Linked DNA regions of Homo sapiens. The protein of the gene in region 3 purifies or fractionates together with the protein of the main gene of each other region. This does not show direct contact. Each region holds a gene or a part of one and is shown on either strand. Other genes may lie near its edges.

The links.
Region 1: the proteins of COL22A1 (region 3) and P4HA2 purify together in Homo sapiens (co-immunoprecipitation; one large-scale study listed by IntAct). This does not show direct contact.
Region 2: the proteins of COL22A1 (region 3) and LAIR2 purify together in Homo sapiens (co-immunoprecipitation; one large-scale study listed by IntAct). This does not show direct contact.

Annotation. Positions count from the first base shown.
Region 1 is NC_000005.10:132,189,768-132,193,418, forward strand, and holds the end of P4HA2 (prolyl 4-hydroxylase subunit alpha-2 isoform 2 precursor), read right to left. Parts: intron 3,314-3,651; coding exon 3,243-3,313; 3' UTR 380-3,242; downstream 1-379. UniProt on the Homo sapiens protein: Catalyzes the post-translational formation of 4-hydroxyproline in -Xaa-Pro-Gly- sequences in collagens and other proteins.
Region 2 is NC_000019.10:54,501,377-54,505,636, reverse strand, and holds the start of LAIR2 (leukocyte-associated immunoglobulin-like receptor 2 isoform a precursor), read right to left. Parts: upstream 2,807-4,260; 5' UTR 2,719-2,806; coding exon 2,685-2,718; intron 1,938-2,684; coding exon 1,902-1,937; intron 1-1,901.
Region 3 is NC_000008.11:138,875,891-138,879,541, forward strand, and holds part of COL22A1 (collagen alpha-1(XXII) chain precursor), read right to left. Parts: intron 2,427-3,651; coding exon 1,860-2,426; intron 1-1,859. UniProt on the Homo sapiens protein: Acts as a cell adhesion ligand for skin epithelial cells and fibroblasts.

The DNA.
Region 1 (3,651 bases), on a different chromosome or scaffold from region 3:
GCTAAATGCCAAGCAAGAAAAGAAAAAGAAACCCATACTAAGTACACCATAGTAAAACTACTGAAAACCAAAAAGAAAAAAATCTTTAAAGCAGCCAGGTGAAGGCAAAATCACCTTCAAAGGAACAACAAAGGACCAGATAGCGACTTTTCAACAGAAATGGTATAAGCCAGAAAACAAAGAATTACATCTTTAAAGTCCTTAAACAGACTCCTGTATGCACTTGATAGAAGACAGAATTAGTGAACTTTGTACAAAACAGCTATAAAGTTCTCCCCAAATATAGCATATATATAAAAATATGAAAGACAGATTAAGAGATAATATCATGATATGATCCAACTTACATTTAATCAGTTACAGAAGAAACAGACAATGCTGAAAGAAAAAATCATTTAATTTTCCACAATTGATTAAGGATACCATTGTACAAATTCAAGAATCCAAAAAAGTCTCAAACAGGAAAAGAAAAAACCTACAAACAAACCACCTAGTGTGCCAGTCACGTTTCTATTCTCAGCTGCAAGCTCATCCTTGTAGTCTCTACTGTTCTACTGTAGCTGCCACTCTGTAAACTACATTTCCCAGATTCCCTTATCAGCTGGCTTCCTGTTAGGGTCTACCAATGGAAGCCACTAGAGGGAGATTAGACGGCAGTAGATAGCAATTGCCCTAGACCCAGTGGTTTTTTGCATGAGACAATTTTATATATTAAGCCCCTGAGATTTAAGGATTATTACTACAGAAAAAGCCCATCCTATCCTAATAAAATATGCAAAAAATTAAAAGTAGAACTTTACACTTCATACCACGTATAAAGATAAACCTAAATGACAAAGACTATATAGCTTTCAGAAGAGAACACAGGAAACATCCTCATGATCTTGGGGTATAGAAGGATTTCTCAAATAAGACATAAAAAACATAAATCAAAAAGAAAAAGCTTGATAGATTTGACATAAAAATTAAAAGCTCCTGTTTATCAAAAGACAGAACTAAAATAGTGAAAAGACAAGCCACAGAAGATATTTGCAAAATATATAACAAAGAACTTGTGTACATATTTTAAAATTTGTATGAATAAGAACACTTGAAGAAACCTAATAACTAATAAACATGAAAAGTTGTTCAACATTATCAGTAATGTTCAAATAGACACTATACATGTACTGTCTTAGGTAGAGCTGCTATAATAAAATACCATACATTGAATTAAAAACATTTATTTCTCATGGTTATGGGAACTGGAAAGTCCGAGATCAAGATGCTAGTAGGTTTGTTTCTGGTAAGGGCCCCCTGGTTCATAGACAGGCATCTTCTTGCTGTGTGTTCGCATGGCAGAAAGAGGGCTGGGATCTCTTCATAAGGGCACTAATCCCACTCACGTGGGCTCCATGCTTACGACCTCCCAAGGGCTCCGCATCCTAATATCATCACATTGGGGGTTAAGATTTCAACATATGGGCCGGGCGCGGTGGCTCACGCCTGTAATCCCAGCACTTTGGGAGGCCGAGGCGGGCGGATCACGAGGTCAGGAGATCGAGACCATCCCGGCTAAAACGGTGAAACCCCGTCTCTACTAAAAATACAAAAAATTAGCCGGGCGTAGTGGCGGGCGCCTGTAGTCCCAGCTACTTGGGAGGCTGAGGCAGGAGAATGGCGTGAACCCGGGAGGCGGAGCTTGCAGTGAGCCGAGATCCCGCCACTGCACTCCAGCCTGGGCGACAGAGCGAGACTCCGTCTCAAAAAAAAAAAAAAAAAAAAAGATTTCAACATATGAATCTGGTGGGGGGACACAAACATTTAGTCCGTAACATGTACCAAGCTAGCTAAAATTCAAAAGTATGAAAATACTAAATACTGGAAAAGATTGGGGTAATAACTCTCATTTACTCCTGGTGAGAATGTGTATAACCACCTTGGAATACATTATTTAGTAAAGTTGGAACACCATTAAGACTCCACATTTCCACTCCTAGATATATATCCTACAGAAATATGTGTTTATATGTGCACCAGGAATCATGTATAAAAATGTTTATCACAGCATTATTCACAATATACAAAGACTGAAATCAATTCCAGTGTTTATCAGCAGCATGCTGCCTGTATTATGGTACAGTCCTACAATAAGCATTAACAAAACTGAATGTACTATAAAGATTAAAACAAATTACAGCTACACAAGCAACACGGATGAATCTTAAAACAATGTTGAACAAAAGAAGCCACATACCCAAAAATATTTACTCTCATTCTATTAGTAAAAGTTCAAAATCAGGGAAAACAGAATAACTACTTATTTAGGGATCTAATCATAGATGGTAAAACTATAAAGACAAGCAAAGGAATGAGTACCACACATCATGAGACAATGATTTATCTCCAAAGTGCTGGGGGCAGTGAAGGAGATGTGATCTAGGAGGGGTTCCCAAGGGGCTCCTGAGGTACTGACTTGAAAACGTTCTCTTTTCTAACTTGGTGTTGACACAGGTGCTCCTGCTCACCTTCATATTTTTTTAAGTATACATCTGTGTATCATGAACAATTCTTATCTCAAAATTTAAAAATGAAGTACACATTATAACAGCATTACAATCATGAACACATGTGCTATGTTCTCTGGGAGACAAAGAGAAACTATTTACCCTACTTTCCAGAAAAGGACACTGACACTTAGAGGGAACACAAGTGTTGAAACCAGGTCTGAAATCCAAGACCCAAGATGCTTTTTTGCTGCTAAAGCATTCATTATCCAGACTCTGCCTGCATGAAGGTGATGCATAGGAAATGATGAACCTGGTAAAAGCTTCCAGTCTTAAAAATACTCCAAGTAAGGCTCTTTAAGGCTTCTGGTAGGGACATTTTATTTTTTGGTAAAGCCACAATAGATAGAAATGCCATAAAAACAAACATGTAAACAAGGTATCAGAACTTTGGTTCACTGAAACATCTCACACCTAAAACACCTGAGGTACAAAGGCACCTTGCTAGGCGCTAGACAGCTAACTCTGCTGCAGCCACTTTGATCCTAGCCTTGGGGCCAGGGATGGCACAGGCTGAATGGAAGGGCTGGGACTTCAGTCACACAGGAGTCGCCCTAGTATGGTCTCCCTCTGCTCCAGACAAACATTCATTTCTCCAAAAATCAGCCTGATAGGAACATACAAAGGAACATACAAAGGTGTCTGTCACGTTGACATGGGCTGAAGGACCAGGAAGGGGAAGGACAGAAAAGGATGTCAGTCAACTTCTGTTGATCCACAAGGTCTCAAGAACTCCTGTCCTCGTTCATGGAACCACTTATTGGAGACTGTGAAAAGAAAGCAAGCATGTTACAATCCTATTGGTCAGTTTAGTAGCCTGAATGAATGACTCCTTCATGATGACCCCCTGCACTGTGCCCTGGAATCAGACACAAATAAGACAAGACATGATCTCAGGCCTCAATTTGCTGAAGAATTGGTAAGGAAGACACATGTAAACAGATAATTGTATGAAATTCTGCCAGTGGGACAAGATACATGTGTGCAGGTTGCCATGGGAATAGCACCCAAGGGCATCTAATCATGCCCTTTCATGCCCATGACCTTTGATGCCCTTTGGCTCTATTCCCATGGCAACCTGCACACATGTTTCTTGCTCTTAGAG
Region 2 (4,260 bases), on a different chromosome or scaffold from region 3:
GGGCTCTAAGAAAAAAACTTCATCTTACGATGAGATATTAAATGAAAATTTTTGAATGCAATTTAAAAACTGTGGAAAGTACAATGGTCATGGTTGTGCTTTTGCAAATCGCCAGTCCCTGGGGTCAGGAAGGGAGCAGGCAGCAGTGGCATGGACAGGCTGAGGCCGGCCTCGGGGAGCCACGGAGGGGAGAAGGGCTGTCACCTGGGGGTGATGCAGGAAAAGTCGATGAAGAGAGAGGGAAAGATGAGAAAAATTTAGAGTGAAATCACCAGGACTGGGTGACATGGTGCATCCAGGAGGATGGAGAAGAGGATGAGTGTTCAGAGTCTGCCCTTTGTGACTGTCACGTTCCCCGCCAAGAAGCTGCCGAGTGAAGTGTGGGCTCGTCTGGGGAAAAGTGCCGGGTTCAGCCTTGGTTGTGTTGGGTTTGAATTCTCATTGTGGAAATCGGTGTGTGGAGGTGATGCCTGCACTCCCAGGGTGACCGCAGCGCTACTCACAGCTGCCAAGACCTGGAAATAACCTGAGTTATATAACCACCACCAAATGAATGGATGAGGAGAATGTGGTGTATATATGCAATGGAATATTATTCAGCCCTAAAAAAGGAAGGACATTCTGTCATTCACAACAGCATGGATGAACCAGAGGACATTATGCTAAGTGAAATAAGCTGGGTACAGAAAGACAAATACCGCATGTGGAATCTAAAAAAGTTCATCTCGGCCGGGTGCAGTGGCTCATACCTGTAATCCCAGCACTTTGTGTGGCCGAGGTGGGTGGATCACCTGAGGTCAGGAGTTCAAGACCAGCCTGGCCAACATGGTGAAACCCCATCTCTACTAAAAACACAAAAATTAGCTGGGCGTGGTGGCATGCACCTGTAATCCCAGCTACTCGAGAGGCTGAGGCAGGAGAATCGCTTGAACTTGAGAAGTTGAGTTTGCGGTGAACCGAGATTGTGCCATTGCACTCCAGCCTGGGTGACAGAGTGAGACTCCATCCCAAAACAAACAAACAAACAAAAAAGGTCATCTCACAGAGTTAGAGATTAGAATGATGCTATTAAAGTCGGGAAATGGGGGGCTTGGGAGAGACACTGATCAAATGGTACAAAGTTTCGGTTAAACAGGAGGAGTAAGTTTTTGAGATCTATTGCATAGCAGGCTGACTATAGTTAATAATAACTTATTATATATTTCAAAATTGCTAAAAGTAGGTTTTAAATGTTCTCATCACAATAAGTATGTGATGTGATTGATATGTTATTTAGCCTTATTTAATCTTTCCACAATGTTTACATACGTTGTAACATCACATCGTGCCCCACAAACATATACAATTATTTGTCGATTAAAAATAAGATTTTTGGCTGGGCACAGTGGCTCATGCCTGTAATCCCAGCACTGTGGGAGGCTGAGGCGGGCGGATCATAAGGTAAGGAGTTCGAGACCAGCCTGGCCAATATGGTGAAACCCCATCTCTTCTAAAAATACAAAAAAAAAAAAAATTAGCCAGGGGTGGTGGTGGGTGCCTGTAATCCCAGCTACTCAGGAGGCCGAGGCAGGAGAATCGCTTGAAACTGGGAGCAGAGGTTGCAGTGAGCCGAGATTATGCCACTGCATTCTAGCCTGGGTGATGGAGTGAGACTCCATCTCAAAAATAAAAATAAAATAAAATATAGGATTTTTGAAAATAAGAAAAGCAAAACATGACAGGTGGAGAATGAAGGAGAGAAAGGGGTGAGGGTTATGCATTTTACATTTGGAATAGTTTGCAATCTAGGGTATATTTAAAGGGATCTCTCCAGGCCCTCTAAGAATCAACATCACTCCCACCCAGCACTGCCTTTGGGGTGACAGAGGGGACTGGGAAGACGGGACGAAGGCATGACTTACCCTCCTGCGTGTGGATGGTCTGGGCCAGGCAGAGCACTGGAAGAGAAGCCCCAGTGAGAAAAATGCCCACTGCCCAGTCTCCTTACAGGGCTGCTGTCAAAAGGGGGCTTGACGGAGCTGGGGGGCATTCAGCATTTCATAACGACCAAGCCAACCCTCCTCGACATCACTGTCTCCATGTAATCCTTCTTGCTGCAAAATGGTTTCAAGATAAATCCCAAAGTCTCCTCTTCCAAAAAGGCTCCTGCTCCCCCAGCCCTTCTTTTTGGTGTTGTTGGAGACGGAGTTTTGTTCTTGTCGCCCACGCTAGAGTGCAGTGGCGCGATCTTAGCTCACTGCAACCTCCACCTCCCGGGTTCAAGCAATTCTCCTGCCTCAGCCTCCCGAGTAGCTGGGATTACAGGTGCCCGCCACCATGCCCGGCTAATTTTTGTATTAGTAGAGATGGAGTTTCACCACGTTGGCCAGGCTGGTCTCAAACTCCTGACCTCAGGTGATCCACCTGCCTCAGCCTCCCAAAGTGCTAGGATTACAGGTGTGAGCACCGCGCCTGGCCCCCCAGCCCTTCTTAAAGCTGACCTCATCCCCACACCCGGGCCCCTGTTTTTAGGACAAGGTTGTCTCTGATCAGACTTAGGCCCCAGGGAGAGCAGTAGGGCAGTCTTGGGGGGAGGAGGACACTTTCCTCCCCAGAATCTTCTGGACTAGAGTCAGGCTTGAGCAGGGAACTTTCCAGACCTCCCGACCCCCTTTCCAGTCCTTCCCGCTCCCTCCAGGACTCACCTAGGCCCAGGAGAGCAGTGAGGTGTGGAGACATGGCCCCGGTCCCAGAACTCTGCAGCAGACACAAGCAGACAGGATGTGCTGGCCGGGGGCCTCCTGCCCGTGGGGCTTCCACAGCAACTGCCTCACACAAGAGGGAGAGCTTTCTGTTCTGTTCTTTCCACCCTTCCCACTAGTGAGATGAGAGGGAGGGCCTTGGTTTCTGAAAAATGTCGCTTACCCGCATGATCAGATGACCTTAAACTAGTTACCCGATGTGTCAGCCTCTTTCTAAATCTATGGGACAAGACAGAATAAAGGTCGTGCAACCAACTGACTTGGATGTCATCCCAACTCCACACGTTAACGACCACCGCTCTTGGGCAAGATGTTACAAAACTAGAAGTCGACATGTCCTCGTATTTAAAATAAGAGTCATAGAAATCCTTCCCCAAGTTTTTAATATTGTGATCTCTGCTAAAATCTCAGCAAGGTATATAATGCATTAAAAAAGATCCTACAGTGCGCCGGGCGCGGTGGCTCACGCCTGTGATCCCAGCACTTTGGGAGGCTGAAAAATTGTGCACTCACTATAGAGAACAGTGGGGAGGTTCCTCAAAAAACTAAACATAGAGCTACCGTATGGTCCAACAATGCCACTTCTGGGTCTATATTTAAAAGAAACAAATTCAGTATGCAAAGAGCCGTCTGAACTCCCCTGATCACTGCAGCACTATTCGCAATAGCTAAGACGTGAAAATCATCTAAATGTCCATTGATAGAAGAATTGATATAGAAAATGTGGTGCACACACAGGGGAATACTATTCAGCCTTAAACAAGGAAGAAAATTCTGCCATGGGCGACAACACAGACGAAACCTGAGGACATCACGCCAAGCGACGCAGATGCAGAGACCAAGTACTGCATGATGTCACTTACAGGAGATCTGCAAAGTCACCAGAGTCACAACATCACAGCAGGGAATGGTGGTTACGGGGGCTGGGAGGAGGGGGAAATGGGGAGTTATTAACAAACAGGCCTAGAGATCTGCTGCACCACATACGACCCATCGTCAGCAATAACGTCTTGTTCACTTGAAATTTGTTAAGAGGACAGAGCTCATGTTAAGTGTTCTAACAATGATACATAATAATAAATATTATATATAAATAATTATAATTATTACATCTAATAATAATATAATTAATATAATATTATTAGTTAAAATTGTTTATCTATTTTATACAGTCATTACATATATAATTGTTTATATATAATAATACAGCAAATACTATATATATGCAAGTTTATATATAATTGTTAATATATATAAACTATTATAATTATACATATACAATTAACAATTTGTGTGTGTGTGTGTGTGTGTGTATGTGTGTGTGGAGATGGAGTCGTACTCTGTTGCCCAGGCTGGAGTGCAGTGGTGCAATCTTGGCTCACTGCAACCTCCGCCTCCCAGGCTCAAGCAATTCTCTTGCCTCAGCCTGCTGAGTAGCCGGGACTACAGGCGCACGCCACCATGCCCGGCTAATTTTTGTATTTTAGTAGAGACGGGGTTTCACCATGTTGGCCAGGCT
Region 3 (3,651 bases):
GATTACCTTCACTTAGCCTTCTGGGCATCGATTTCCACCTCTGTAACACAGGCCAAGTCATCGGTGCTGGATCTCTCACAATTATCTGAATTTCTCCAGCAGTCTTGTGAAGGACCTCCCTTTGTCCTGCTGTTCAGCGGCATTCCATTCCCCACAGAGATCTGACCATGTCATACCCCCGCATAAACCCTCCAGCATGTCCTCACCTTAGCACACAAGGCCCCCCTTTATGGGGACCCTGACAATCTGGCAATGCCCAGCAGCCCTAACCTCCTCCCTTTCCCCAGCTGCACGGGCCCATCATGGTTCATTGACCATGTCATGGCATCCTTTAATCCCACTCCATCGCATCCTTCTCAATCCCATGCAGTTCATGCCCATCCTCTAAACAACCTAAGCACCACCTCCTCCAGGGAGCCCTCCATCATTCTCAGTATCCCCACACATACCACGACCACACATGGACCTGGCACATGAGACGCTGCTAAAGTTTACCTGCCCGGTATCACATTCCCTTTTATGTGGCTTTCCTGCCTTCTAGACTATGAGCACCCTGAGAATGGTTGCTGTGTCTTGTCTTTTTCTGTAGCCCCAGAAATCAGCACAAGGCCATACAAAAAAGTAGAGCCCTGATAAGTATCTGTTGAATAAATAAGTGGAGATTAAAAGAGCCAACACAGAGAAAAGGGTCATACTGTGGTAAAGCAGCCTAGAGCCACCCCAGTTTCAGAAATGGTTTAGCTGTTTTCTCACTGGGCTGCAAGCCAGGCACATCCCCAGGATCAGGCCCCTGCCTCCCCTTCTGACTCACACCCAGCTGCTCTCATCACGAGCACCTTCCATGCTGCCCCAGCCCCCAAAGCTTTCCCTGCCCCTGGCCAAGGTGTAACCTATGGCTTCCCAGCCAGGGGTTGTTCAGCCCCCTGCAGTAATCAGCAAGACAGAGGCTGAGGCTCCACACTCAGCCTGACCGGCTTCAAAGCCCAACCCCTCCCGGGCCTGGAGGAGAAGATTACTCAGCACCCACTGTGACTGGAGAAGGACAAATGTCACCCCAATGCAATAGGCAGAGGCAGAAGCTGGAGACAGTCTGGAACATGAGAAACCCACTTCATCCTTCCTGTCCTGGGGAGGGCGCTGTCCTCAGAATGACCCCCACTAAATCCTGGAGGTCAGGCTTCCAGGTCAGAGCCCTGGGGGCCATCAGCCCTCTGCCTCCCCTCCCCCACCCCCAGCCACAATCAACAGATTCCAGACAAATAAGCTAGAGGCCTTGGGTTATCTCAGAGGGCACCAGGTCAACAGCACTTGGCCTCTGGGATAAGCACCTCCTGACTGTGTCTAAATGACTGACTCTGGGCTGCTGGGAAGAGCCGAGGGAGCCTGAATGCTTCTTGCGTGATCCCTCATCACTGCCCCTTCGGAGACCCTGCTATACCCAATGCTTCAGGCCAGACTTTGCATGCACAGTTTCTAGCTTTCACAGCTCTGGGCAGTAAGTAGAGGATGTTCCCACATCAGAGGTAAAGATGAGACACCAAGTATCTCCCAGGTGGCAGGGTGGTTAGAACCCATCCCTCTTTCATCCCAAACCCCTTCTTGCCTCTGCCCGCGACCTCTGCCTCTGGATGGGAGAAGATATCCTTCTGACAACAGGAATGTCCAGGGGGTGCCCATGCTACTAGGTTCCCTGTGTGGCCAAACCCAAGAATGTGGGTCCCCTCAGCCTCTGCACCTGCTACTTCCCCCGCCTTCCTGGAGCCGGCCGTAGGATCCCTATCTGCCCGAGGACCCCTCCCGTGGGCTCAGCAGGGGGCGTCACTCTTGGGAGGGGCCGCATGGGGCCCGGGCGCACTCACTTTCACAAAGACGGCGCCGCAGCTTGCCCCGGATCTTGTCGATGGCATTGAAGTCGGACACGTGGAAGACGTGGGCGGACTTGGGCTCTGAGGCGATCTCCTCCAGCTCCTCCTTGAGTGCCTCGCCCACGCCCACGGCAAAGATGCGGATGCCAGCGCGGTGGGCTGCCGCCGCGGCGTCCAGCACCAGGTCCTGGCTGCGGCCGTCGGTGAGCAGGATGGCCACCTGCTTGTAGGCGCGGTCCCTGGGGCGGCCGCCGGCGTGTGGGGAGAAGCTGCGGGCCGTGATGTAGCGGAGCGCGTCTCCCGTGTTGGTGTTGCCCCCGTGGTAGGCGAGACGCCGGGCAGCCGCCTTGACCTCCTCCTGCGAGCCAAAGAGTCCCAACTCGAAGGCCGTGGTGGGCCGGTCGCTGTAGCGCACGACCCCCACACGGGTGCGGTCGGGGCCCACCTCGAAGGTGTCCACCAGGTTGGCCACCCACTGCCGGACCTTCTCAAAGTCCTCCTTGCCCACGCTGGAGGAGGTGTCCAGGAGGAAGACCAGATCGTAGTGGACACTTTTGCAACCTGCAGGGGTGAGAGAAGGGGTGGCGTAGGGCAAATGGGCATGGAAAGGACACTGTCCTGGGGTATACAGGTCACTGGGGTCACACACACCTGCTCAAATACCTACCTGCCCTGTCTCTCATGACCCAAGGGCCCTGGGCTGCCTGAAAGGCCTGAGCCTCAGTTTCCACACCTTCACATGGCAATAATGATGAGTTTTCCCCAAGACTACTGTGAGGCTCAACTGACAGTAGGTAGCATCACATTAAAATGACTAACACCCACCGCACAGCACTATGCCTCAATCTCTTCACTTTTATTTTGTTTAAAAGGTGACTCCATTTTTCATTATTTTTCAACCTACCCCAAATAATGTATGCCCATTTCCAAGAAGTCAGAAAATGCAATCAAAAGATGTTTAGATGTTTTAGGCTGGGCGCGGTGGTTCACGCCTGTAATCCCAGCACTTTGGGAGGCCAAGGCGGGTGGATCACGAGGTCAGGAGATCGAGACCATCCTGGCTAACGCAGTGAAACCCCATCTCTACTAAAAAATACAAAAAATTAGCCAGCAGAGGTGGTGGGCGCCTATAGTCCCAGCTACTCGGGAGGCTGAGGCAGGAGAATGGCGTGAACCCGGGAGGCGGAGCTTGTGGTGAGCCGAGATTGCACCACTGCACTCCAGCCTGGGCGACAGAGCGAGACTCTGTCTCAAAAACAAAACAAAACAGGTGTTTAGATGTTTTAAATGCCCATATTCCCACACAGAGATAACCACTGTTAAAGCATGGTATATATACTCATATATACTCAATTATTTTTTATTTCCATATAATTATTGATAGGAATGGGACTGTACCAGACACACTGATACATACGCTGTTCTCCCTGCATTTAGTTATAAGCTAGAAATCCATTTCTGGTTTGATCATGCTGGTTTCCATGGCTGCAAAGAGTCCTCTGCACAGATGAACATAATTGATTTAGCAAGCGCTCTCCTGTTAGATATTTAACTACTCAGCCCTTTAAAATCAGATAATACAAGAGGAAGTGTTTTCCAATCTCTAGAATGCTGCACAAATATACAAGGAACTATCAAGAAGCCCTGGTCTTAAGGCCAGGTGCAGTGGTTCACGCCTGTAATTCTAGCAATTTGGGAGGTCAAGGCGGGCAGATCACTTGAGGACAGGAGTTTGAGACCAGTCTGGCCAATATGGCAAAACCCCGTCTGTACTAAAAATACAAAA